Regions from separate parts of the Homo sapiens genome. Here regions 1 and 2 are each linked to region 3. Evidence: fine-mapped expression QTL. A gene starts in region 3. Each other region holds a variant in brackets. All regions are shown on one strand. Distances are from middle to middle. Region 1 holds the start of ZC3H18-DT (ZC3H18 divergent transcript). Region 2 overlaps RNF166 (ring finger protein 166). Region 3 holds the start of MVD (mevalonate diphosphate decarboxylase).

Region 1 (8,173 bases), 100 kb before region 3:
CCATAAACTTTTAGCAGAATTTCCGCTTAATTCCCAGCATTTTCAGCTCCAAGTCTTAACACTTCCCCTCTGTCTTAATGTGGCTCCAGTGGCCCTTCGTCTCTCCCCTGCCCCTTCCATGCCTCCCGCCCCATCCCCACCCCCTCTGCCCACCCCCTGGCTCCTCTCCACCCCCAGCCCCTCCACAGCTCTTTGTCTCCACCTCTAAGACTGGGGCTCCTGGAAGCCACTGGTCCTCATCTTATTATCATCCTGGTCTCCACGGAGCCCAGGACGGAGACTCACACAGCTCAGTGGAGCGTCGCCAAGCTCGGAGGGCACGCAGCACCCTAGCAGCACCTGCAATGGCACCTGTGCTCTCTCTCGGGAGGAGATGATGGCCCCAGCTCAGGGCCCAGAATTCGCGCCTGACTGTGCCCCCTTCCGGACCTAAGGACCGCCCTCTGCTGTGCTGGGACTGCCTATGTCTAGACAGAGCGGGGCTCACTCCCCGACCCAAAGGGTTCCCCAGAGTGTGGCCCCATCTCCAAGGCCCTGCTGCCCCCACTGAAAACCCGCCCAGCCCATGGTGAGCACCGCAGAATTCACAAGGCGCTTCCTGCAGACACTTTCTCCCAAGCGGGCCATGCCTTCATTGCTACTCAGATCTCCCTAAAGCCACTGATGTGGTTTGGCTCTGTGTCCCCATCCAGATCTCATGTCGAATTGTCATTCCCAAGGTTAGGGGAGGGGCCTGGTGGGAGGTGACTGGATCACGGGGGTGGATTTCCCCCTCACTATTCTCAGATAGTGAGTTCTCACGAGATCTGATGGTTTTAAACTATGCGGCACTTCCCCCGCCCCCCACTTTCTCTCTCTCTCTCCTGCCGCCATGTGAGGACGTGCCTGCTTCCCCTTCACCTTCCACCATGATTGTGAGTTTCCTGAGGACTCCCAGCCATGCTTCCTACACAGCCTGTGGAACTGTGAGCCAATTAAACCTCTTTCTTCATAAATGACCCAGTCTCCAGTAGTTCTTTAGAGCAGTGTGAGCCTGGACTCACACAGTCACCCATTTCCGGGACCTTTACCACCAGGCCAGGCAGCCACCAGTCACTTTACACACAGCATCTCGTTTCCTAGCACCTGGGCGAAAGTGCTGTTTTCAGCTCTACTTACAGGCAAGGATGGAAAACCCAGAGGGTTCAGCCAGCCTCACCTGCTCGGGAGGGCACAGCTGGGCCGCCTGTACTGCCTTAGAAGGAGAAAAAGAGAAATGGAAACAGGCTCCACGCTGGGGGCCACTATTCTTACCTCACCATAACCTCACAAGGACTGAGCACACCACGGGGGCTCAGAAACCAGGGTCCCCGCTCAGAAACTGGTCCCCTCACTCACACGTGATGTGGCCACTGAAAATGGCTGGGTGCCCTGGCCGGGCGTGGTGGCTCAAGCCTGTAATCCCAGCACTTTGGGAGGCCGAGGCGGGCAGATCACAAGGTCAGGAGATCGAAACCATCCTGGCTAACACAGTGAAACCCTGTCTCCACTAAAAATACAAAAAATTAGCTGGGCGTGGTGGCAGGCGCCTGTAGTCCCAGCTACTTGGGAGGCTGAGGTAGGAGAATGGCGTGAACCCGGGAGGCGGAGCTTGCAGTGAGCCGAGATCACACCACTGCACTCCAGCCTGGGTCACAGGCAAGACTCCGTCTCAAAAAAAAAAAAGACATCCATGTCCCTAACCCTAACCCTGTGAACGTGACTGTATGTGGAAGAATGGAAGAAAGGTCTTTGCAGACATGATTGAGTTAAAGATGGAGAGAAAGAAGGCATCTGGACAGACCCGACGTGATCATGAGTTCTCCTGAGAGGGAGGCAGAGGGAGATTGGACACAGATGGAAGAGGAGAGGCGTGGGACCACAGAGGCAGAGCAGGAGCTATGCAGCCTCAAGGCACGGGAGCCACGGATGCCTGAGGCCTGGGAACCTGGAAGAGGCCGTGGGGAGCCTTCCCTGCAGCCTGCAGCCCTGCCCGTGCCTCGAGTTCCACTTCATGACTCTGCTATCAGACATCTGGCCTACGGAACTGTGAGGCGATATGTTTCTGAGTGTTTTTGTTGTCACTATTGTTGTCGTTTGAGACAGTGGTGCAATCACGGCTCACTGTAGCCTCGACCTCCTGGGCTGAAGCAAGCCTCCCACCTCAGCCTCCAGAGTAGCTGGAACTACAGGCGTGCACCATCTTTTTTTAGAGATGGGGGTATCACTATGCTGCCCAGCCAGGACTTGAACTCCTGGCTTCAAGCAATCCTCCCGCTTCAGCCTCCCAAGTGCTGGGATTGCAGGTGTAGCCACTGTGCCCAGCCAGCTTCTGTGGCTTTAAGCCGCCCATTGGTGTCACTTGTTACAGCAGACCCAGGACAAGCCACTCAGCTGAATGAGTTTAGAGTCTGATTTTACCCTTTCTGGGCCAGGAATGCCCTGCGGGGCAGGCGGCTGCAGCTGAGCCTTCTAGACCTCTCTCTACTGAAAATACATAAAAGGCGGAGGTTCAAGTGAGCAGAGATCGTGCCACTGCACTCCAGCTCTCCATCTCAAAAAAAAAAAAGAAAAGAAAAACCAAAGTAGCCATTGAGTAAAAAGGGAAATGACAAAAGAGTCTCGCTCTGTCGCCCAGGCTGGAGTGCAGTGGCGCGATCTCAGCTCACTGCAACCTCTGCCTCCTGGGTTCAAGCGTTCATCCTGCCGCAGCCTCCCCAGCAGATGGGATTAGGAGTTAAAGATGTGCGGTGAGTCCCGCGTCCCCCCATGCTCCGGGGGTGTGAGTCGCGCATCCCCCCGTCGGGGGGTGAGTCGCCCGTCCCCCCGTGCTCCGGGGGGGTGAGTCCCGCGTCCCCCCGTGCTCCGGGGGGGTGAGTCCCGCGTCCCCCCGTGCTCCGGGGGGGTGAGTCCCGCGTCCCCCGGTGCTCCGGGGGGGTGAGTCCCGCGTTCCCCCCGTGCTCTGGGGGTGTGAGTCCTGCGTCCTCCCGTTCCCTGGGGGTGTGAGTCAGGCATCCTCCCGTTCCCTGGTGGTGTGAGTCCCGCATCCTCCCGTTCCCTGGGGGTGTGAGTCCCGCATCCCCCCATGCTCCAGGGGTGTGAGTCCCATGTCCCCCTGTACTCTGGGGGTGTGAGTCCTGCATCCTCCCATTCTCTGGGGGTGTGAGTCCCGCGTCTCCCATGGACCAGCGCTGTAAGTCCCATGCCCTCCTGTGCTATGGTGGTGTGAGTCCCGTGTCCTCCCATTCTCTGGGGGTGTGAGTCCCCTGTCTTCCCGTTCTCTGGGAGTGTGAGTCCCATGCCCTCCCGTGCTCCGGTGCTGTGAGTCCCGCGTCCCCTCAAGCTCCGGAGCTGTGAGTCCCGTGCCCTCCTGTGCCTGGTCGTGCAATGTTGAGTTCGGCACTGAAACTCTCTGAGCTTCATTTTTTACCATCAGCACCCTGCTTCCCAGCGCCTTTGGGAGGAGCAAAGGAGAAAGTCGGGCCCAAGGCCCCAGCAAGAGGCCAGCCCTTGACAGCTGTTAGCTGGACTTTGCTTCCGTCCTGAAACAATACAACTTCTGAACCACACGGAGCGCTGTTGGCCAGAAACTCAGAATCGGATGGGTCCCCATATCTGTGTTTTAAAAGTCACTCCAGACTTCTCCAGGGCACAGCCCTGTGCTTCCGGGGCCTGCAGGCTGGGGGGAGGGGAGGAGAGGTGGGCTGCTGGG[G/T]ACACTCACAGGCACCTTGACTCCCCTGGGCCCCCTGGTGTTCCCTGCCCTTTTTTTTTTTTTTTTTTTTTTTTTGGAGACGGAGTCTCGCTCTGTCGCCCAGGCTGGAGTGCAGTGGCACTATCTGGGCTCACTGCAAGCTCCGCCTCCTGGGTTCACGCCATTCTCCTGCCTCAGCCTCCTGAGTAGCTGGGACTACAGGCGCCCACCACCACGCCTGGCTAATTTTTTGTATTTTTAGTAGACACGGGTTTTCACCATGTTAGCCCGGATGGTCTCAATCTCCTGACCTCGTGATCCACCCACCTCGGCCTCCGAAAGTGCTGGGATTACAGGCATGAGCCACCATGCCCGGCTCCCTGCCTTTTCTTTCTTTCTTTCCCCTTCCTGTCTTTTTTTTATTGAGTGAAATTCACATAACATAAAATTAACCATTCTGGGCTGGGTGCTGTGGCTCATGCCTTGTAATCCCAGCACTTTGGGAGGCCAAAGTGGGCAGATCACCTGAGGTCAGAAGTTCGAGATCAGCCTGGCCAACCTGGTGAAACCCGATCTCTACTAAAAATACGAAAAATTAACCTGGCATGGTGGCAGGCGCATGTAATTCCAGCTACTCAGGAGGCTGAGGCATGAGAATCACTTCAACTGGGAGGCAGAGGTTGCCGTGAGCCGAGGTCCCACCACTGCACTCCAGGTTCGGCCACACAGTGAGTCTCCATCTCAAAAAAAAAAAGAAGAAGAAGGAGAAGAAAAAGAATTTTTCAGCATCCCAGAGGCCCCTGGCCTCCCAGCCACTGTCCCTCCCTTCCTGGAGGCCAGCCACCATTGTGATGAAGAGAACCCCGTCTCTCCCTCAACATGCACCCCAAAACACCATCCTCTATGTTGCCTGTTTGTGATCCACACAGAATTCCACAGAATTGAGCCTGGCCACTTCTGCTCAATGTGATTGAGAGAGGCTTCCTTGCTGCGCATAACTGCAATTCGCCTGTCTCCACTGCCGCGGAAGGGCCCGGCGACGGGATAGACCATGATTCGCCCGTCTCCACGGCCACGGAAGGGCCCGGCGATGAGATAGACTGCAATACATTTTCCCATGAAGCTGTTGATCGGCTCCTGGGCTGTTTCTGGTTTGGAGGGTGTCATGAATGAGGCTGGCATGAGCACATGAGTTCTGGCTGAGTAGTATTTTCAGCAGCTTGGCCAAAAGGTATGACTTTTCAGGACCTGGCTGAAGGAGGGACTCCAGAGAAAAGGGCTGATGGGCGGGAAAGCGCTGGCAGAGGGGATGGCCAAGCCACAGCTGGCAGGCTATGGTTCCCAGAGCCCCAATCAACACACCTCAGCTCCCAACTGGGGCTACCTGGAACGACAGGAAAGGCTGACTCCATGAGCTGTCATGGCGTGGAAGACCCAGTTGTGCCCAATGGACGCAAGCTCCCTCCATTTCTGGCCATCCCCTGCTGATTCCCTCCCACCCCCACCTCCAGCCCGACCCCGCCTTCTCCACCAGGTGCCCTCCCATGAATTCAGCTCCATGGACAGCTCCCAGGCTGCTGTCCTCCATGTGGTGCTGAAATCACCCCAACAGAGAAGCCAAGACATGGAGAAGCTAAGGAAGAAAATGGAATGAAATGGCATGGGATGGAGCTACAGAGCCATCAGTCCTGAACCCGCCACCACGTAGAAGTGGAGGCAGGGGTCCAGAGAGGGAAGTCTTTTGCCTAAAGGGGTCATGAAGTGCTCGGTGGTAATAAATGGAATCGTCTACGACGACCGAGATTTACAGAACCCTGTCTGCATGCCAGGCACCACGCTGAGTGTTCGTATGTGGACCGCCACCGTCAACCCACACGGCAAGCTCAAGAGTAGGGCCCTACGATTGTACCTGCTCAACAGAGGAGAAGCCTCATCGGTGAGCAGCAGAGCTGGGCCTGGAACCTGTGTCTTCAGCCCTACCCCGGGCCTTTCCTCCCCTTGCCCTTGGTCTCAGTGGGTCCACTGTTTCTCTAGAACCAGAAAATGACAGTCACAGCAGCGTTGACGTCACCCCCAGTATATGAGTCAGGGTTCTCTAGAGGGACAGCACTAATAGGACAGATGTATACATGGAGGGGAGTTTACTGGGAGTATTGACTCACATGATCACCAGGTGAAGTCCCACAATAGGCCGTCTGCAAGCTGAGGAGCCAGGAAGCCAGTCCGAGTCCCAAATTCCAGGCGGTGAAATGGCAGCTGAACTGACATTCATTCATTCATTCATTCATCAATCAATCATTCATTCACCCCCACCAGCCTGCAGAGGTCCTACGGTGCCAGGCCCTGGGGCTGCAGAAACAACAGAAAAGCCCCCAGCCTCAAGCTCAGCTGCGCCGGGAATCCTTTCCCCGGCCTCCTTGGGGTGTCTGAGACCTCGTCAAAGAGTTGGGGGCCCATGGACATCTCGAGGGAAAGGCAGGGGGCCAGATGGGGTCAGAGCCAGCATCCCTCCAGAGGCTGGGACAGGGACTGGAGTGGACTCACTGTGTCTGTGGTGGGGGCCATGATGGAAGTGGGGGTCCCACACAGAACAGACAGGGCTTCCTGCAGGTTTCACCTGCAGTCCAGGGCCTGGGACCACCCCCACCCCCCCATCCCCCATCCCCCACCCCCCCACCCCCCCACCCCTCTATCACCCTTCACCCCCCCATCCCCCCTTCCCCCCGGGAACAGCGGCTGGGCGGAGTGGGAGTGCCCTCTGGTGGCTCTTTGAGGAAATAGCAAGGGCTATCCTTCGTAAAATGCTTTCAGACAGAACCGCTGGTATGGCACTCGGCCTCCCGCTGAAGACATGGATACAGGCTGGACACACACGCTTCGCTGTGTGATACACGCATGTAACGGGGCCTGTGGGGAGTAACCAGCGCTGGTGGGGCCCGGGGCTATATCCCTTGAGCGAACATAAACAAGAAAGTGAGCCCACGTTCAGCCTGGTTTTCCTTGTGGGGCATCTTCCCACATTGGCGTGGAGGTCCAAAAACAGAAAGCACAGCCTTGCCGAGCTGAGAAACAGGGATTAGAGTTTGAGGCTCCAAACCTGCTGGGGCCTGAGGGAACTTGGAGAAAGAGCCCAAAGCCCTGAGTGCAAATCCCCTTCAGGCCGTGGCCGCCCCCTAAGCTGAATATGCCCCCAAGAAACTCCAAGAAACCCAACAGAAAAGGCTCCCGGGAGGATGGAGAGCTGAGCAGGGGTGTTGGCAGCTGCGACGGGCTGGAGACCAAGCCCTGTGGGGGGCGGGGGCTGGTGACCATCACAGGCTTTCCCTTGGGAGCACAGAAGTTCCACTCCCTGGGAACAAGGGCTGTAACCCCCAAAGCCAGTCTGGACAGGGCTAACCTGGGCGCGATGGCTCATGCCTGTAATCGCAGAGCAAAAAAAAAGAATAAGAAAAGTTACAAGGTGTCTTAGTCTGTTACCTGTTGCTATAGCTTAAGAGTGGGTAATTTATAGAGAAGAGAGGTTTGTTTCTTACAGTTCTGAAGGCTGGAGGTCCAAGAGCATGGCGCTGGGCAAGAGCACGCCAGCCCAAGTCTCTCTTTCTCTTCTTTTCTTTCAAGATGGAGTCTCGCTTTGTCACCCAGGCTGGAGTGCAGTGGCACCATCTTGGGTCACTGCAACCTCTGCCTCCTGTCTCAGCCTCTCAAGTAGCTGGGATTATAGGCACCTGCCACCACGCCCGGCTAATTTTTGTATTTTTAGTACAGACGGGGTTTTGTCATATTGGCCAGGCTGGTCTCCAACTCCTGACCTCGTGCTCCGCCCACCTCAGCCTCCCAAAGTGCTGGGATTACAGGCGTGGGCCACCGCGCCCGGCCCGTTTCTTTTGTTATGAGGCCACTAGTCCCATCATGGGGGCCCACTCTGATGACCTTATCCAATCCTAATTACCTCCAAAAGCATATAATTGTGGAGATTAAGTTCCCAACACATAAAGTCTAGGAGAAACATTCAAACCATAGCACAAGGCATGCTCTTAGAAGGGACCAGAAGCCGGGAGTGCATGCCTGTATTCCCAGGGACGAGGGAGGCTGAGGTGGGAGGATCACTTGAGCTCAGGGGGTTGAGGCTGCAGTGAGCCCTGTTCATGCCACTGCACTCCAGCTTGGGCAACAGAGTCAGACCTTGTCTCAAAAAAGAATAAAATAAAAATAAAAAAAGAAGAAGGGACCAGATCACCAGACATGGTGCTGATGCCCATAATCCCAGCACTTTAGGAGGCCAAGGTGGGAAAATCATTTGAGCGCAGGAGTTTGAGACCAGCTTGGGTAACACACTGGGAACCCATCTCTACAAAAAACGAAAACAATAGCTGGGCATGGTGGTGCACACCTGTACTCCCAGCTGCTCTGAGGGCCGAGGTGGGAGGAGCGCTTGAGCCCAAGAGTTTGAGGCTGCAGTGAACC
Region 2 (8,173 bases), 31 kb after region 3:
GGTGCCCAGGCTGCAGGCTTGGCTGTGCTGCCCGTTAGAACAGTCCCTACCCACACCAACCGTAAGACACATGAAACTGCACAATGCCTCAGCACAGGCAAGGGAGAGTGACCGGTGCTGAGGGGAGCCCTTGGGCCTGCGGCAGATGAGGTGAGACTTGAGCCATCAAGCAGCGAGGCAGCGTGCGTGTGAGTCTGCAGGCCACAGGCGTGTTCGTGCGTGTGTCCATGGGCGTATGCGTGTGGGAAGTCGCAGTAGCTGCTCTGAGGTGACATGGAGGCTGGGCATCAGCGGGTAAGTCCCGGGCACCAGGAGAGGGATCTGTGGGGTCCCCGGCATCGTCCTGCCGAGTTGGATACCTGAGCTCGGTTCCAGCAACACCATCCGCTCTCTGCCAGGGTCCTTTGAGATTCCCACCTGCCGTGTGAGGGAGCTGACACCTTACTCGCGGCAGGCTGTGGGGCCACGCCCTGCAGCTGAGGGAAGGAAGAACTCAGGCCCGCTGAGTGTTCTTTTGTCCAGCCACAAAGGGAGCAATGCCTGCCGGACGAGGGGCTGGGGCCGCATCATGCCTGGGACCCGGATGAGCACTGTCCAGGGCTCCTGCGAACAGGGGCGGGCCTGGGACAGGGGGACCTGGGGTGGGAGACATAGGAGAGGGGACCCCTGGGGGAGAGGGACTTGGCATCCCTTCCGGATGCAGGCCAGCAGCAGGTTACACAGGCCCTTCGTAAAGGTGCTTTCTCTGTGGCCTGCGCCCTGGGTCACCCCATCAGCAGGGTCCTTGGAGCCCCAGTGCCTGCAGAAATGCCAGGGACAGCATTGACAGCGTGCTGACGGACAGCACCGTGGATTGAACTGTGTCCCCCTAAAAGATGCTGGGGTCCCCCCAACCTCTGGGCATGGGGCCTTATTGAAAATCGAGTCTTCACAGGTCCCATCAAGTCAAGGTCAGGCCATTAGGTGGGCCTTAATCCAAGGACTGGTGCTCTGATGAAAAGAGGAAGCTTGGATTCAGAGCGCAGGGGGAGGGTGACGTGCGGGTGCAGAGGAGTTGTGTGTTGACCACAGGAGCCAGCCAAGAAGCACCAGGCCGCTGCGGCCGCCCCCGGCCCCCACCCCTGCCCCATGGCACAGCCCGCCCACACCTGGGTACTAGACTTCCTCCTGAGCTGGCGACACTTAGACTCCTGTTGTGTTCGGCACCCCAGGGTGTGGCCCCTTGATACAGCGGCCCAGTAGACCCAGCGTCCAGACCGGGATGAGGCCACAGGCCCTGGCTTGCCCCTGATTCGAGGGACTCGTGGAAACAGGCCACTGCTGTCCATGCAGAACACACCCCAGTCCCCACAAACCCACAGCAGGTGCACTGAGGGTTCCGAGAAAAGCACCACGTGGGTGCCACTCCCGTTTCCTGGGGCTGGCGCCACAGCCGCTCCTCTCCAGAGACTCTGGGAAGCTCACACGGCAGACTCTGCAGGGGTTGCACTGGCCCCGGGTTCAGCATGCCATCCACCACTGGAAGAGCCCAAACCGCGGCCAAGACCAGGACTGCACGTCAGAGGGTCCGGGTGGGCTTCCAGCCAGGCTTCTACCTGCCGAGGCCCTGGCTCTGAGTGGGTGCCATGTGGAGTCTCCCCTTGCCCTGCAAAAATGTATCTCCAGCCAGCCACAGTGGCTCACGCCTGTAATCCCAGCACTTTGGGAGGCCAAGCTGGGCGGATTGCTTGAGGTCAGGAGTTCAAGACCAGCCTGGCCAACGTAGTGGAACCCTGCCCCTACTAAAGATACAAAAATTAGCCAGGTGTGATGGCGCGTGCCTGTAATCCCAGCTACTCGAGCGGCTGAGGCAGGAGAATTGCTTGAACCTGGGAGACTCCTTCTCAAAAGTATCTCTACTTGTGCCCGAGAGCCCACTGATAATTAGAGATGCATTCCTTAGGCTATTTTTGTCAAAATACCAAAGTGCCTTTGACATTGTGATGCCTTGCTGAGTGCATTTAGGCCTCTTTTTCCTAGAGTGAGTTTAGAGAGTGGCGAACCCTGGGGATGTGGTTATAGAAGGAAGGGCGGCGGAGGCAGCAACACCGGAGATGGCTTTTTCAGGCCATCCCTCGATGGGGCCGGGTCCTCCCAGGTGTTTCGGATCGGAGGAGGCTGACTGTAGCTGAGGGCACCCTCCCTTCCCACCTTCCTCCTCCCTGCATCACATCCTGGGCAGAGTTAGGGGTCCCCCATGGAGGCCTCTGGGGTTTTCCAGGTGGGCTGCCAAGTAGGTGCCCCGGCTGGACCACAGGGTGGAATGTCAGCCGGGTTTGCCTCTTGTTAGCAGGAGATTTGGGGCAGGTTTTCTGAATATCTGTTTTCATCCATGAAACAGGAAAAGTGGCTTCTGCTTCCTTCCCTAGGGCCTCAGGAGCCTAAACCCAGGTGGCCCCAAATTAGAGGAATCCTCAGGCACCACCCAGACGCACCCAGAGGATCCTGGGAGGGTCAGGCTGCTGCGGCAGGTGTGCTGGGCCCTGGGGTAGAGGAGTTGCAGCTGGGAGGCCCCTTATTGGAGGGAGCCCCCACCCCCTCCCCACCCCCGGCCACCGCGCACACCTGCAGTTCTGGAAAGGCCTGGGCTGAGTCTCGCGAACCACACCCTGCTGCCGCCGCCTTGGAGTACCCAAAATGCTGGTCGTGGCTCCTGAGATCCAGGTATAAGAATTATCAGCAGTTTCTTGGGGGCCCGGCCTGGGGCCAGGGGCTCTCCATTCCCACCTGACCCCTTTCTAATGGAGAAGTTCCCTGGTCCCTGAGACCTGGACGCGCTTTCTGGGGAGCAGGGTTCATGCTTCCCATGCAGCTGCATAACGTGAAAACAAGGGCATGCTGCCCCAAGTCTGCGACGGGCCTGGACCGCGCAGGGCAGGAGCCCCAGCTCCTCCAGGGCGAGCCACATCTGGCTTTGTGCCTCGCTGTCAGGCCCTGGTGTACTCCAGGGTGGGAGGGAGACCCAGGCTTCCAGGACTCTGCCTGAGCGCGGTGGGTCCACATCCGAGCTGCCGCGGCCCCGGTGGTCAGAGCGGGCGGCCCTCTGGCTCCGGCGCTGTGCACGCCCTCACACCCCGACGTGAGGGGCTTCGGCCCACTTCCCTCGTGTGGCCGTAGGAGGGGTCCCGGCCTCCCCACTTTCACTGGGACAGCCCCCACGGGTATCGGGGGTGCAGACATTTGGCTCTATCTAGGGCTTTGTTAACAAGAAAAATGGAGCAGGGGTCTTGCTCCGTGCCTGAGGTCTCGTCCCACCATGGCAGGATCTGCTGAGCTCTGACGGACCTGAGTTCCCCACTTTGCTGGGGTTCGTTCTGGAGTCCTCCCCTGGGCAGACTCTCCCAGACACCAGGTCACCCGAGAGGCGGCCGGGCCCGTGAGGAAAGCTGAGGCCGCACCTTCACCCAGACGCTGGCCTGTGGCTCTCAGCTCTCCTGTGGCCTCCATGAGGGGACCTGGTGGGAACAGGCCTGCTCCCTCCAGAATTGTGTGCAGGGACACAGAGAGTCCTGAGGAGGGGGTCCTGGGCTTCCTCTGACAGCCCTCCTGGGCACGGCAGCAGCGGGAGGCCTGGGTTCAACCAGGAGGGGACAGGGTTTTGCTTCCTCGGCATTCGCAGGTGGCACGGGGCTTGGGAGCAGGTGCTCGGCAGGGCTGAGAGTTCGGAGGTGGCCCAGGGTTTGGGAGCGGGGCAGGCCAAATGTGATGGGGACGGCTCCTTGTCTGGGCTCCGCTCTCTGTCCCCTCAGTCTGGGCACTGCTGGCTTGTAGGAGGCTTGTGGCTGCGGTTCAGTCAGGGAGGGAGGGCAGTCGCGTCGCCTGCGGCCAGCGGGACAAGCACACAGGGACAGGCTTCTGCCCCTTTCAGAGGCCGCAGTATGTTAAAACCGTTCCTATCCGTAGCATGAGCGTCAGTGGGCCCCCGGGGGGTCTTTCTCCTTCCCGCCCCGGGCCCAGTGCCTGCCCTGGCCTTGCTGAGTCCCCAGCACAGCGGTCACAGTGCGGTGCCAAGAGGGGGCCTCAGAGCTGAGGGTGACACAGAGCAGGGGGCCTCAGACCAGCCTAAGTCGGGATTCGTCCCCTGAGGCACCTGCCACGGAACTGGGGGCCTGGGGCAGAGCAGAGCAAGGGGAGGCAGTTCCCAGCCCCAGCCAGTCCATGCCTCCCACAACATGCCGGCTCCTCTCCCTTC[C/T]CCAGGGCAGTGAGGTGCCGCTCAGTGACTGGAAGGTGCTTTGCCCTCCTCAGGTGAGGCGTAGAGACTTAGGCATCACCTCCCCGAGGGCTGCTGTTGAGACCACGGCCTGCCCAGACAGGGCCCAGAGCTGTCTTCAGCCTTCCTGGGCACCCAGGGTCATGCCCTTGTGACGGCTCCGTGTCACCCTCGGGTCAGATGTGGAGGCGGCTTGGACGTGGAGAGCTGCCCCCGTCGCTGCTCCTGCTGGGAGGTGGGTGGCGGGTAGGCTGCCCAAGGGGTGAGACAGGCTTGGCCAGTGGCCAGGTGGCGAACTGTCGGCCTCACTGGGCACCAGTCAGAGGCCCACGTGGCTCCGGGGGACACTGTGTCTTGAGCCTCCTTCTGGAAGGCCACAGGGAAGGGCAGGCTGGCAGGTGTCTCTGATGTTCCCTGGAGTTTGGTGCTGCCTGGTGAGGGCCTCCCAGACACAGGACCATGTCATCAGGGGTCAAAGAGTAGTGGGAAGGGGAGGTGGGGACTCCAGTGGCCCTTGGCGAGGGCAACTGGAAATCAGCCCTGCTCCCTTGGGGGTGTCTCCCTTCAAGTGACAACTGGCAGAGGCTCCTGTGTGTCCGGCCCAAGCTGTGGCCTTCAGGGTCAGGACAGCCACCTCCCCTGCGAGTAAGGAATCCAGAACAGAGGCTGGAAACACTCCTTAACTGAGTGCGGGAGGGAGGAGGCAGGAGGCAGTGACTGAGCTATAATGACCAGCTGCCCTGGGGTTGGCTGGCGAACAGGTGATTCTTGTTGGCCTGAGGCCCTTGGACACTGGAGAACAGGACATCCCATGGCCCTGGTGGTGGCCCCTCAGAGAACTACAGGCAGTTAGTGTAACACTCAGTATGCTCAGAAACCAATCCAGGAGGTGCTGAGGTGGCGCACACCTGTAGTCCCAGTGACACGGGAGGTCAAGGCGAGTGGACCACTTGAGCCCAGGAGATCGAGGCTGTGGTGAGCTGATTGCACCACTGCACTCCAGCCTGGGCAGCAGAGTGACACCCCACCTCTAAGAAAAAGCAAGCAGCCTAGGAGTCCGAACCCCAGCAGCCCTGTGGGTGTGGGAACAGGGTGGTCCTCTCTGAGGCAGGAGGGCCCAGTGCCAATGTGTAGGTGGCTCTGTGGGACCCTCCGTGGCTGAGTGAGGCTCAGGCCCAGGCTGTACCCCCAGCGTGAGCTGCCTGGGGAGGACACAGCCGACCTCCAACACAGACAGCAGCTGGCGATTCCACACCGTGGAGCACAAAAGCCAGTCGAGGCTGCTAGAGATGCTCTGAGACATTTTATTTAAACTTTTTTTTTTAAAAAAAAGACAGCAATAATTAATGCCAAGAACAGAAAAGAATGTTGACGTGTTGCCCGGCCCGCCAAGCGGGCCCCTGCCCAGGCCCCCAAGCTCTGCCACCACTGGGGTGCCGTCCCCTCCCGCAGCGGGGCACAGTCAGCTTTGAAGGTGACAGCGGGCCAAGGCCAGGACTCTGGGTGGAGGAGGCCCCTTCTCTGCCGGCCCCGCCTCTGCTGGGAGCAGCCACAGCCTGTGGCTGGGGTGCTGGGATTTCTTCCTGGTCATCAAAGAGAAACGTACAAACCTCAAGGACCCAGACACACAGTGGGTGGCCAGGGCAGACCCCACAGCAGACCCCATGGCTCGCCTGAGCTCTGGCAGCTGCCCCACTGCTCCTTCCATCCTTGCCCCAATCCCCCAATGCTTGTTTTGATTGTTTTCTTAAAAAATATAATTTTGTAAATGTTCCATAAAAATACTATTATTCCTAGTCAAACACAGATATTGCAATATGAAGAGTAACTGCTCTGTCTTTGCTCTATAAAACGTGAAAAGATTATCACACTGGATAATATAGAAAAGATGCCAGGGTTCCTAAGTATCACAAAAGCCAGTACCAAATGCGCAAGGTGGAAGTGGGGCCGGGGCAGGGTCGGGCTGGGCAGGGCAGCAGCCTGGGTTCCTCCCGGCTCGACTGCGGAGCGCGACTCGCGCGTCGGTCCCTTCTTCCCACGAGGGGGTATCATGGCTTTGAAGAGACGGCGGCAGCTCCAGGTCCCAGCGTCCAGCCCTGCCCAAGTAGGCCGCCTGCTCGGCCAGAAGCACCGAAGAACCCAGCGACGCCGGTGGGACCAGGCGGCCCTGCTCTGGCGGCCTCGGCGGCTGGCCCGTATTCAGGCCCGGAGGCTCGGCCCCGGCTCCCCTTCTGCGCGGGTGCAGGCTCCTCCTGTGAGCTCAGTCCGGTGAGGTGCGCTCCCGAGCAGGTGCCAGGTGCGACACAGGAGCGGGGACATCCCTGACCCCAGACGCAGGCGGGTGGCTGCGCTTCCCTTCAGTTCTCAGAGAGAGACAGGGCCAGAGCAGCCTGGAAGGCGGCCTCCTCGTCAATACTGTAGTCCTGGAGACAGGAAGGAGAGATGCACCGGGCTCGAGGGAGACAGGAAGGAGAGGTCCCCTCTGCCCATCACCCACACAGGCGTGTCCACCCTTCCTGCCTCCCTCCAGCAGGACACAGGAAGGACCCAGCTCCACTGTCCCCACAGGCTCGGGGCCTGCACGGTCCTCTGGGGGGTGAGAAGGTGAAGGTGTGTCCATCACCCGCTGGGTACGGGGGCACTCGGAATGGATGGCTGCTGGTTCAGGTCGGACTCTAAGCCCGGGGTTTCCGAGGTGAGCAGGCCGGCCAGGGCTCCCTGACCTCTAACAATTTCCATCCTGAGGCAGGCGGAGCGTGGGTCCCGGACGACTGGCAGAGGGAGTGACAGCCATCGCCAGGACTGTTAGCCAGGGCCAGGAATGAACAGGGCGGCGCAGGGAGGGGCCGCACCAGGAGTGAGGAGTTTGTGCGAGGGTCTGCAGGCCCGGGGGCCAGGTGTGTGCCTGACCCGCGGCGGGTGGGAAAAGGAGACAGGGCTGGAGTGTTCGATGTTGATGAAAGTCCTTCCCGCGCTCTCTAGAAAGCTTCCAGAAGGAAGCCTGGCTCACCCTCGAGGGGTTCTGTGGGGTGGGCAGGCAGGGACCTGCCCTGTGCGGTCCATGTCCCCGAGAGGCCTGGGCACCCTCTAGTGGCCACTCAAACTCAGCTGCCATCACTCCCCACCTGCAGGCAGCCCCCACAGAACCTGGGGGAATGTGGCCACCTGAAACGAGGCTTCTGTTTCTGGCTTCCTCTGAACCCTGCGGACCCTGAGGCTGGCGAGGGGCCCGAGCAGGAGGAGGGTGGATGAGGAGGGCGTGGGGGAGGACGGTGCTGGCGGGATGCCTACCACAAAGGTGTCGTAGGAGAACTTGTGTCGGTGAAGCAGGTGCTGCAGGAAGTTGGCGCTCTTGTAGCTGGGGTCCCCCCAGGGCATTGCCGAGCAGATGGGGCACACCTGGAACAGGCACTGGGGTCAAGCCGAGCCGGACCGCGGAGAGGCGGGGTAGCCGCAGTAGGACTGGGGGCCCTCCACTGAGCCCCGTCAGTGCTGCCTCAGCCTGGGAAGGCACCCCAGACCTGGAGGCGCGTGTCCCGGTGACAAGCGAGTTATTCAGTGCGCGTCACCCTGAAGGACTCATGGACACTCCCCGGTTTCCGCCAGGTGCTGCTCGGGCAGCCAAGTTCCCACCCTGGGTCCCAGGAGGCCTTTGTGGCCTGGGCACCCCCGGACTCGCCGCGAGCAGGCTCCTGGGCCTTGTACTGTCCCCCACAGGCCTCCCCTGGCGCAGGCGTCGCTTGGGGCAGGCACTGCTCACCACGCGGTTGGGGTCGCTGCGGTGGCTTTCCACACAGTGCTTCACCAGCTCCTGCTGGTCCAGGTTGCGGGCACCACAGTACGGGCAGGCGAAGGTGGACCTGTTGGGGATGTTGCTGGCGGGGCGGGGGTAGAGTGAGTGGCACGGCTAGGTGTCTAGGGGCT
Region 3 (8,173 bases):
CCACTGGGGACAACTGAGACCCTGGACATCACAGGTGAGACTCTCACGGGTGACAGAGGGCGGCTGTGGGACAGTGCAGGGGGAGCCCGGGGCTTTCTTTTCTGCTTGCCCTAGACCTAGCCCTGCAGAAGCTGGAACTGCCAACCAAAGCCAGCCCTCCCTAGCAGGACCAGGAAGGGCAGCCTAGCAACACAGAAACAGACTCCTGGCCGGGCGCGGTGGCTCACGCCTGTAATCCCAGCACTTTGGGAGGTCGAGGTGGGCAGATCACCTGAGGTCGGGAGTTTGAGACCAACCTGACCAATATGGTGAAACCCCATCTCTACTAAAAATACAAAAATTAGCCAGGCTGTAGTGACGCACGCCTGTTATCCCAGCTACTCAGGAGGCTGAGGCGGGAAAATCGCTTGAACCTGGGAGGCGGAGGTTGCACTGAGCCGAGATGGCACCACTGCACTCCAGCCTTACTCCAGCCTGGCAACAGAGGGAGACCCTTTCTCAAAAAAAAAAAAAAAGAAAAGAAAAAAAGAAACAGATCCCTCCCACACTCCAGGCTGGAACAGTGCCCCGCCCCCTTTCCCTCCCTGAAGGAGTGGGGACTTTCACCTCCCCAGGAGTCATTGGAGAGCACACGGGAGACTGGACTCCCCTGACCTGCCGGCTCTTGTCAGAGGCCAAGCAGACACTCAGGAATTCCTGAGGGCCTGGTGGGGATGGGACAGCGTTGGTGGGGAGGGGAACCTGGACTTCTGCCTCCTTATCTTGAGCCAGCACCCCCTCCTCCACCAGCGCGCTATCAAAAACCAGCTCAAACGTAAGGTTTAAAGAAGACCAGAGTCTCTGAACGTTACAAGAAAATGGACACGTTTCCATAAATATCACTGTTGGTGAGCCTCAGTGGCTCACACCTACGATCCCAGCACTTTGGGAGGCCGAAGCAGGCAGATCACTTGAGGTCAGGAGTTTAAGACCAGCCTGGCCAATATGGCAAAACCCCGTCTCCACTAAAAGTACAAAAATTAGCCAGGTGTGGTGGCGCACACCTGTAGTCCCAGCTACTCGAGAGGCTGAGGCAGGAGAATCGGTTGAACCCGGGAAGCGGAGGTTGCAGTGAGCCGAGATCACGCCATTGCACTCCAGCCTGGGTGTCGCAGTGACAGTCTGTCTCAAAAAAATAAATATAAAAGTAATACAAATAAATATAAAAATATAAATATAAAATAAATAAATATAAAAAATAAAAATAAAAGGCCAGACGCGGTGGCTCACACCTGTAATCCCAGCACTTTGGGAGGCTGAGGTGGGCAGATCACGAGGTCAGGAGCTTCAGACCAGCCTGGCTAACACGGTGAAACCCCATCTCTACTAAAAATACAAAAATTAGCCAAGTGTGGTGGCACGTGCATGTAGTCCCAAATACTCAGAAGACTAAGGCAGGAGAATTGCTTGAACCCAGGAGGCGGAGGTTACAGTGAGCCAAGATTGTGCCACTGCACTCCAGCCTGGGTGACAGAGCAAGACTCTGTCTCAAAAAAAAAAAAAAAAAAAAAAAAAATAGCAGAAGAGAAAATCCAGAAATAGACCCACACAAACATGCCCAGCTGATTTTTTTTTTTACAAAAGTGCAAAAGCAATTCAATAGAGGAAGGATAGCCTTTCTGGGCTAACTGGACAACCTTGGATCACAGACTTAAATATAAAAGGCAATCCTGTACAACTTGGAGGAAAGCAGACAATCTTCAGGACATAGGGCTAAGCAAAGAGGTCTTAGACTTGACATCAACATTGATACACTGAACTTCTTTAAAATGAAAAACTGGCTCTTTGTTAAGAGGACAAAAAGATTAGCTAGTTTGGGAGACAATACCTGCAAACCACATGTCCAACAGGAGACTAATATCTAGAATACATATTTTATTTTTTTTCAGTAGAGACGGGGGTTTCACCATGTTGGCCAAGCTGGTCTCAAACTCCTGACCTCAGGTGATCCGCCCACCTCAGCCTCCCCAAGTGCTGGGATTACAGGCTTGAGCCAGCGTGCCCAGCCTAGAATGTGTAATGAACTCTCCAAACTTATAGTAAAAAAGCAAACCATCCAGTTCGAGCGTGGACACAGAATATGAAGAGAGATTTCACCAAGAAAACCCACAGATGGCAAATAAGCACAAAGAAAGATGCTCCACGTCACTGGCCAACAGGGAAACGCGAATGAGGACCACAGCACCCTGCCAGCACATCCCTACCAGGACGCGGCTAAAATGAAAAACAGCAACTCCACCAAATGCTGGTGAGGATGCGGAAAATCTGCATCACCGTAGGGATGCAAAATGGCCCAGCCACTCTGAAAAACAATTAGACAGTTTCTTTAAAAAAAAAAAGTATATATATAATATATATATGTATATATACACACACATACATCTATATAGGTGTATACATATACACACACATATATCTATACAGGTGTATATATATATACACACACACAAACATACATATATACATAGAAAGAGAGAGAGAGACAGAGAGGCATATATATATATCTACCATCTGACCCAGCAACCGCACTCCTGGGCATTTATCCCAGAAGAATGGAAATGTATGTTCACACAAAAACCTGTATACAACATTTTATGGCAGCTTTATTGGTAAGGGAAACACAAAAAAATTAGCCAGTCGTGGTGGCGGCTTCTGGAAAGAAAAGAAAGAAAGAAAGAAAACGTTAGATGCTCTTTGCGGGGTGAGGCCTTGGCTAGAGAGAGGGTGGTCCATGGATTCCACGGACTGGCTCAGCAACAGAGGGGCAAAGCACTGATACAATCCCGGGGCACGTCCACATTCTATGCTGAATGAAATAAGCCAAACTCAAAAGATACTGGGTGGGCCACATAACTGCGATTCCAGTTTCAGAACATTTTGAAATGACGTTACAGAAATGAGTGGTCAGTGGCGGCCAGGTAACCCCGGCGCGAGGGGAGGGGCGGGGCTGTGAACGCACAGGTGCGGACCGGCCTCCCCGGCACGGATGTGGGCCTGCGGGCCCCCCATTACCGCTCCTTGGAGGTTACCGCTGGGAGAAACGGGGCGAGGGAGGGACACAGGGTCTCGGGCTGGGGGAGCAGTGGCGCGATTTCCGCTCACTGCAGCCTCGACCTCCCGGGCTCTGGCCATCCTCCCGCCTCAGCCTCCCGAGTAGCTGGAGCCACAAACGCGCACCACCACGGCGGATTCTTACGATTCATGGGAATCGATGATTGATGATTTCGATAGTTCGGTAATCGCTAATGGGCAGGCGCCGGGCGACCCTGCAGGGGCGGCAGCCGTCGCGGGGGAACGGGTGGCGCCGAGCTTGTCACGCGAAGGAGCGCGCGGCCCCGCCCGACCACCGCCGCGCCCCTCCCTGAGCCTCAGTTTCCCCGTCTGTCGAGGCCCTGGGAGGGCAGGACGGAGCGCGCCGCCGAATCAGCGCGCGACCCCCGCGTACCCGGCCTCGCTCCCGGCCATCCCCGTCCCAGGCCGGCCCGCGGCACTCACAGTACTTGATGACCGCGATGTTGACCGGCGCTGTACAAGTGACTGCCGCCAGCGGCTTCTCCGAGGCCATGGTCCCACCGCGCAGTGACCCCAGCTCCACAGCCACTTACGGCCCGCGATCCCACCCCAGAGGCCTCTGCCTCCTCACGCGCTACCACAGGATTGGCCCGTGCGAGCCCGGCTGCTCGCGCGCCGACCAATCAGCGGCGAGTCGGGCGCACGCATTACCTCTCAGCCAATGGACGGGATCGGACGATGGGTTGCTGACGTAGGTCCGCCCCACCCGCAGGGTGCGCTCGCCAGGCCTGGGGCGTGGTGTTGTCTGCGCAGGCGCCGTGTGCCCAGGCGCCTGGCGTCCGCGTCGGCGATCCGGGGTCTGGGCGCGGCGAGGTGGGCGCTGTTGCCTGTGGGGGCTACCTGTCTGCTGGTGCTGTGCGGGCTTGTGCGGGGCTGTGCGGCAGCTGTGTGGGGCCCGTGAGGAGCTGTGCGGGGGGCTGTGCGAAGGGCTGTGTGAGGCGCTGTGCTGGGGGCTGTGCGGAGACCTTGAGGCGCTGTGCGGGGTCCGTGAGGCTCTGTGTGGGGCGCCGTGTGGGAGACTCTGCGGGGGCCGTAAAGGGTCCGTGAGGCGCTGTGTGCGGGTTGTGAGGCGCTGTGCGGGGACCATGAAGGGGCCGTGGGGCGCTGTGCGGGTGCCGTGGGGCGCTGTGTGGGAGGGAGGCTGTGCGGGGCCGTGGGACGGTGTGCGGGGCTGAGGGGAGGGCGGGTCGCGCTGTGCCCTCCTTGAAGCTCTTGGACGGCCCCGCTGGGTATGGGGGTGCACACAGGCCCGAGGGCAGGCGCTGGAGGATGTATCCCGGGATCCACTCTTAACCCGGCAGCCGAAGGCACCCTGTCCCGCCGCCCACAGCCTTCTCCGCGCCATGTCCTGGGCCAGGATCCCCCGCCACGGGGCTCACACGAAAGACCCCGGGGCGGGGAAGCCCCGCAGCCCGGAGCTGGGTCCAACCTGCATTAAGGTGGGCGTCTCAAATACCCCCTGTAAGGCCCTGTAGGAGCAAAGCCTTGGACTGGGTTGCGGCGCTTGTGTGTGCATTGACTTCTCCTGTGAAACGTACAGGAACATTTAAGCGTGCCGTTCCCTGCCATTCATTCCAATCATGTGCCACGCCCCCACTATTTCTAGAGTTTTCTCACCCCAAACAGAAACTCTGTCCCCTTAAAACAATGACTTCCCATTTTCCCCTTCCCCTTTTAAAATTTTACCTTTAGTTTTTAAATAGCTCAGATTGGCTGGGCATGGTGGCTCACACCTGTAATCCCAGCACTTTGGGAGGCCGAGGTGGGCGGATCACGAGGTCAGGAGTTTGAGACCAGCCTGGCCAACATGGTGAAACCCTGTCTCTACTAAAAATACAATAATTAGGTGGGCGTGTGGTGCACGCCTGTAATCCCAGCTACTGGGGAGGCTGAGGCAGGACAATTGCTTGAACTCAGGAGGCGGAAGTTGCAGTGAGCCGAGATGGTGCTGCTGTACTCCAGCCAGGGTGACAGAGCAAGACTCCATCTCAAAAAAAAAAAAAAAAAAAAAAAAAACTCAGATTTCGGAAAATAGGGGAGTATGCAGTGTGAAGTGTCCACTCTGCCTAGCCACCTACTTCTATTACCAGAACCATCATACTTATAAATTCTTTATTTTTTTCCAGAAATAGAAAAAAAGTCTGTTTTTTTTCTCACTCTGTTGCTCAGGCTGGAGGGCAGTGGTACGATCAAAGCTCCATGCAGCCTCGACCTCCTGGCTCAAGGGATCTTCCCACCTCAGTTTCCTCAGTAGTTGGGACTACAGGTACACACCACCATGCCCGGCTAATTTTTTTCTTAATTTTTTTGTAGAGATGTGGGGGGGTCTTGCTATGTTGCCCAGGCTGATTTGAAGTCCTGGCCTCAGGGAACCCTCCCATCTCAGTCTTCCAAAGTACTGGGATTAGGTGTGAGCCACTCCACCTGGCCTGTCAATTCTTTGTGTATTTTTTCATTGACGTGCATAGTACAAGCACATAGCGTGTTCTCCCACCTTGCTTTTTCTACGTACCTTCTTCTTAGAGATCATCCCAATTTAGTAAAAAGCTTCCTTGTTTGTTGTCTAAATATACCTGGTCTGTCCTAGTTGGGTTGTTACTATAAACAGTGCTTTCCTACGTTGTTTGTGCACATGTATTTCTGCAGGAGAAATTCCTGGAAGTGGAATTGCTGGGCCAAGTGGGATGTGCCTGAGTACTTTTGATAGCTGTTGGCAAGTCGCCCTTTGTGGAAGTCAATTGATTACTCAGGTCTCTCTGCGGAAGTCTGAGAGTGCCTGCATGCCTTCACCAGCACAGTGGGTCACCTGCCAGAGTGACATGTGTTGTCTCACTGTTTTCAATTTGCATTTCAGATGGTGGTTATTTTTAATTTCTCTTGCAATCACAGCTGCTTTTCCATTTTATGCAAAGCCACTAAATCCTATTGAAGAGCTGATGTGGACTGTCTCGGCCTATAGTCAGGGTGTATTCCCTCAGCTACTCAGAGAGAGTGGGGCTTCCAGTCACCTCCTTCCTTCTGCCACGGCTGTGATGAAAAAGAAGACACAGGCTTGGTGCTTTGGGAGGCCAAGGAGGGCAGATTGTTTAAGTCCAGTAGAAAAAAAAACAATTTATTTTTGTTTAGAGACAGGGTCTCACTCTGTTGTCCAGGCTGGAGTGCGATGGCACCATCAGCTCACAGCAGCCTCAACCTCCTGGGCTCAGGTGATCCTCCCACTTCAGCCTCCCAAGTAGCTGTGATAAGTGCCACCACTCCTGACTAATTTTTATTTTTTATTTTGTAGAGATGGAGGTCTTACTGTGTTGCCCAGGCTGCTCTTTTTTTTTTTTTTAGACAGAGTCTCGCTGTGTCACCCAGGCTGGAGTGCAGGGGGGCAATCATAGCTCACTGCAACTTCTGCCTCCTGGTTTCAAGTGATTCTCATGCCTCAGCCTCCCAAGTAGCTGGGATTACAAGCGTGCACCAGCAGGCCCGGCAAATTTTTGTATTTTTAGTAGAGACGGGGTTTCGCCATGTTTGGCCAGGCTGGTCTCAGACTCCTTGCCTCAAGTGATACGCCTGCCTCGGCCTCCCAAAGCACTGGGATTACAGGCGTGAGCCACCATGCCTGGCGTTTTTATTATTATTATTTTTTTTTTTTTTTTTGAGACAGAGTCTCGGTCTGTCACCCAGGCTGGAGTGCAGTGGCGTGATCTCGGCTCACTGCAACCTCCGCCTCCCACGTTCACGCCATTCTCCTGCCTCAGCCTCCCAAGTAGCTGGGACTACAGGCGCCCACCACCACGACCGGCTACTTTTTTTTGTTATTTTTAGTAGAGACGGGGTTTCACTGTGTTAGCCAGGATGGTCTCGATCTCCTGACCTTGTGATCCGCCCGCCTCAGCCTCCCAAAGTGCTGCGATTGCAGGCGTGAGCCACTGTGCCTGGCCCTATTTTTTTAAGTTTTAGATAACCTCTATTGATTATGACTCAATAGAAATAAGGAATTCTCTTCCATCTCCCAGTCACATACCTTCTTATCCTATCCCTCCATCAGCATTCCTTATTTTCATTATTACAATTATCTAAGTTATACTCACAGTTGAGCCATGTAGCAATGGGTGCCGACAGTGTGCTTGTGGGCAGACTCCCTTATTGAGTGGAGAACTAGGATAAACTACCTCCCTGAAAGATGTCACACATCGATCCCCACCCTGACGCCTGTAGCCCAGCTCTCCTGAACCTCAGCCTGTATGTGTGTCGAAAATAGGCCAAGCATGGTGGTCCATGCCTGTAAGCCCAGCAGCACTTTGGGATTTGGGAGGACTGCTTGAGGCCTGGAGTTCAAGACCAGTCTGGGCAACATAGCGAGACTCCACCATATCCACAAAAAAAAAATTTTTTTTTTTTTTTTTTTTAAGACACAGTCTTGTTCCATTGCCCAGGCTGGAGTGCAGTGGTGCAATCTCGGCTCACTGCAACCTCCGCCTCCCAGGCTCACTGCAACGTCCGCCTCCCAGGCTCACTGCAACCTCCGCCTCCCAGGCTCAAGTGATTCTCCTGCCTCAGCCTCCCAAGTAGTTGGGACTCCAGGTGTGTACCACCACACCCAGCTAATTTTTTTGTATTTTTAGTAGAGACGGGGTTTCACCATGTTAGCCAGGATGGTCATGGTCTCGATCTCCTGACCTCGTGATCCACCCGCCTAGGCCTCCCAAAGTGCTGGGATTACAGACATGAGCCACCGCATCCAGCCTACAAAAAAATTTTTTCAAAATTAGCTGGCCGTAGTGGTGCACACCTGTACTCCCAGCTACTAGAGAGGCTAAAGCAGGATGATCGCTTGAGCCCAGGAGTTCAAAGCTTCAGTGAGCTCTGATCACACCACCGCACCTGAGCCACAGGCATGGGTGCTTTGCTGAGTATGGTATGGGTAGGCTGTGTGTGGCACTGATTCATGAGGGGAGAGGGTCTGGGAGATGAATGGGAAGCCAGACAGCTGGAGCCCGTGGGTGGGCCCTGACTGGTGTTGGGGCAAGGAGGGGAAGCCCAGCCAGGGCTGAGCATGTCCTGCCTGGTT

The links. PIP is the estimated chance that this variant, and not a neighbour inherited with it, causes the effect.
Region 1: its variant is fine-mapped to the expression of MVD in whole blood (INTERVAL, PIP 0.97).
Region 2: its variant is fine-mapped to the expression of MVD in lung (TOPMed, PIP above 0.99).

The regions. Positions count from the first base shown.
Region 1 is chr16:88,555,633-88,563,805 of GRCh38, forward strand. ZC3H18-DT (ZC3H18 divergent transcript) reads right to left here and starts at 6,351. Exons shown (of 3, transcript NR_146877.1): 1 at 5,872-6,351; 2 at 5,619-5,739; 3 at 4,471-5,093. The variant G/T (reference allele first, on the strand shown) is at 3,731.
Region 2 is chr16:88,690,962-88,699,134 of GRCh38, forward strand. It overlaps RNF166 (ring finger protein 166), which reads right to left. Exons shown (of 6, transcript NM_178841.4): 4 at 8,010-8,124; 5 at 7,541-7,648; 6 at 5,540-6,672. The coding sequence ends at 6,607. Among named protein-coding and RNA genes, the nearest start is that of SNAI3, 8.5 kb to the left of the region's middle. RefSeq lists a silencer at 928-977. The variant C/T (reference allele first, on the strand shown) is at 4,232.
Region 3 is chr16:88,659,477-88,667,649 of GRCh38, forward strand. MVD (mevalonate diphosphate decarboxylase) reads right to left here and starts at 3,615. Exons shown (of 10, transcript NM_002461.3): 1 at 3,535-3,615. The coding sequence starts at 3,604. It overlaps SNAI3-AS1 (SNAI3 antisense RNA 1), which reads left to right and starts at 3,897. Exons shown (of 4, transcript NR_024399.1): 1 at 3,897-3,924. RefSeq lists silencers at 3,360-3,779, 4,120-4,279 and an enhancer at 3,860-3,909.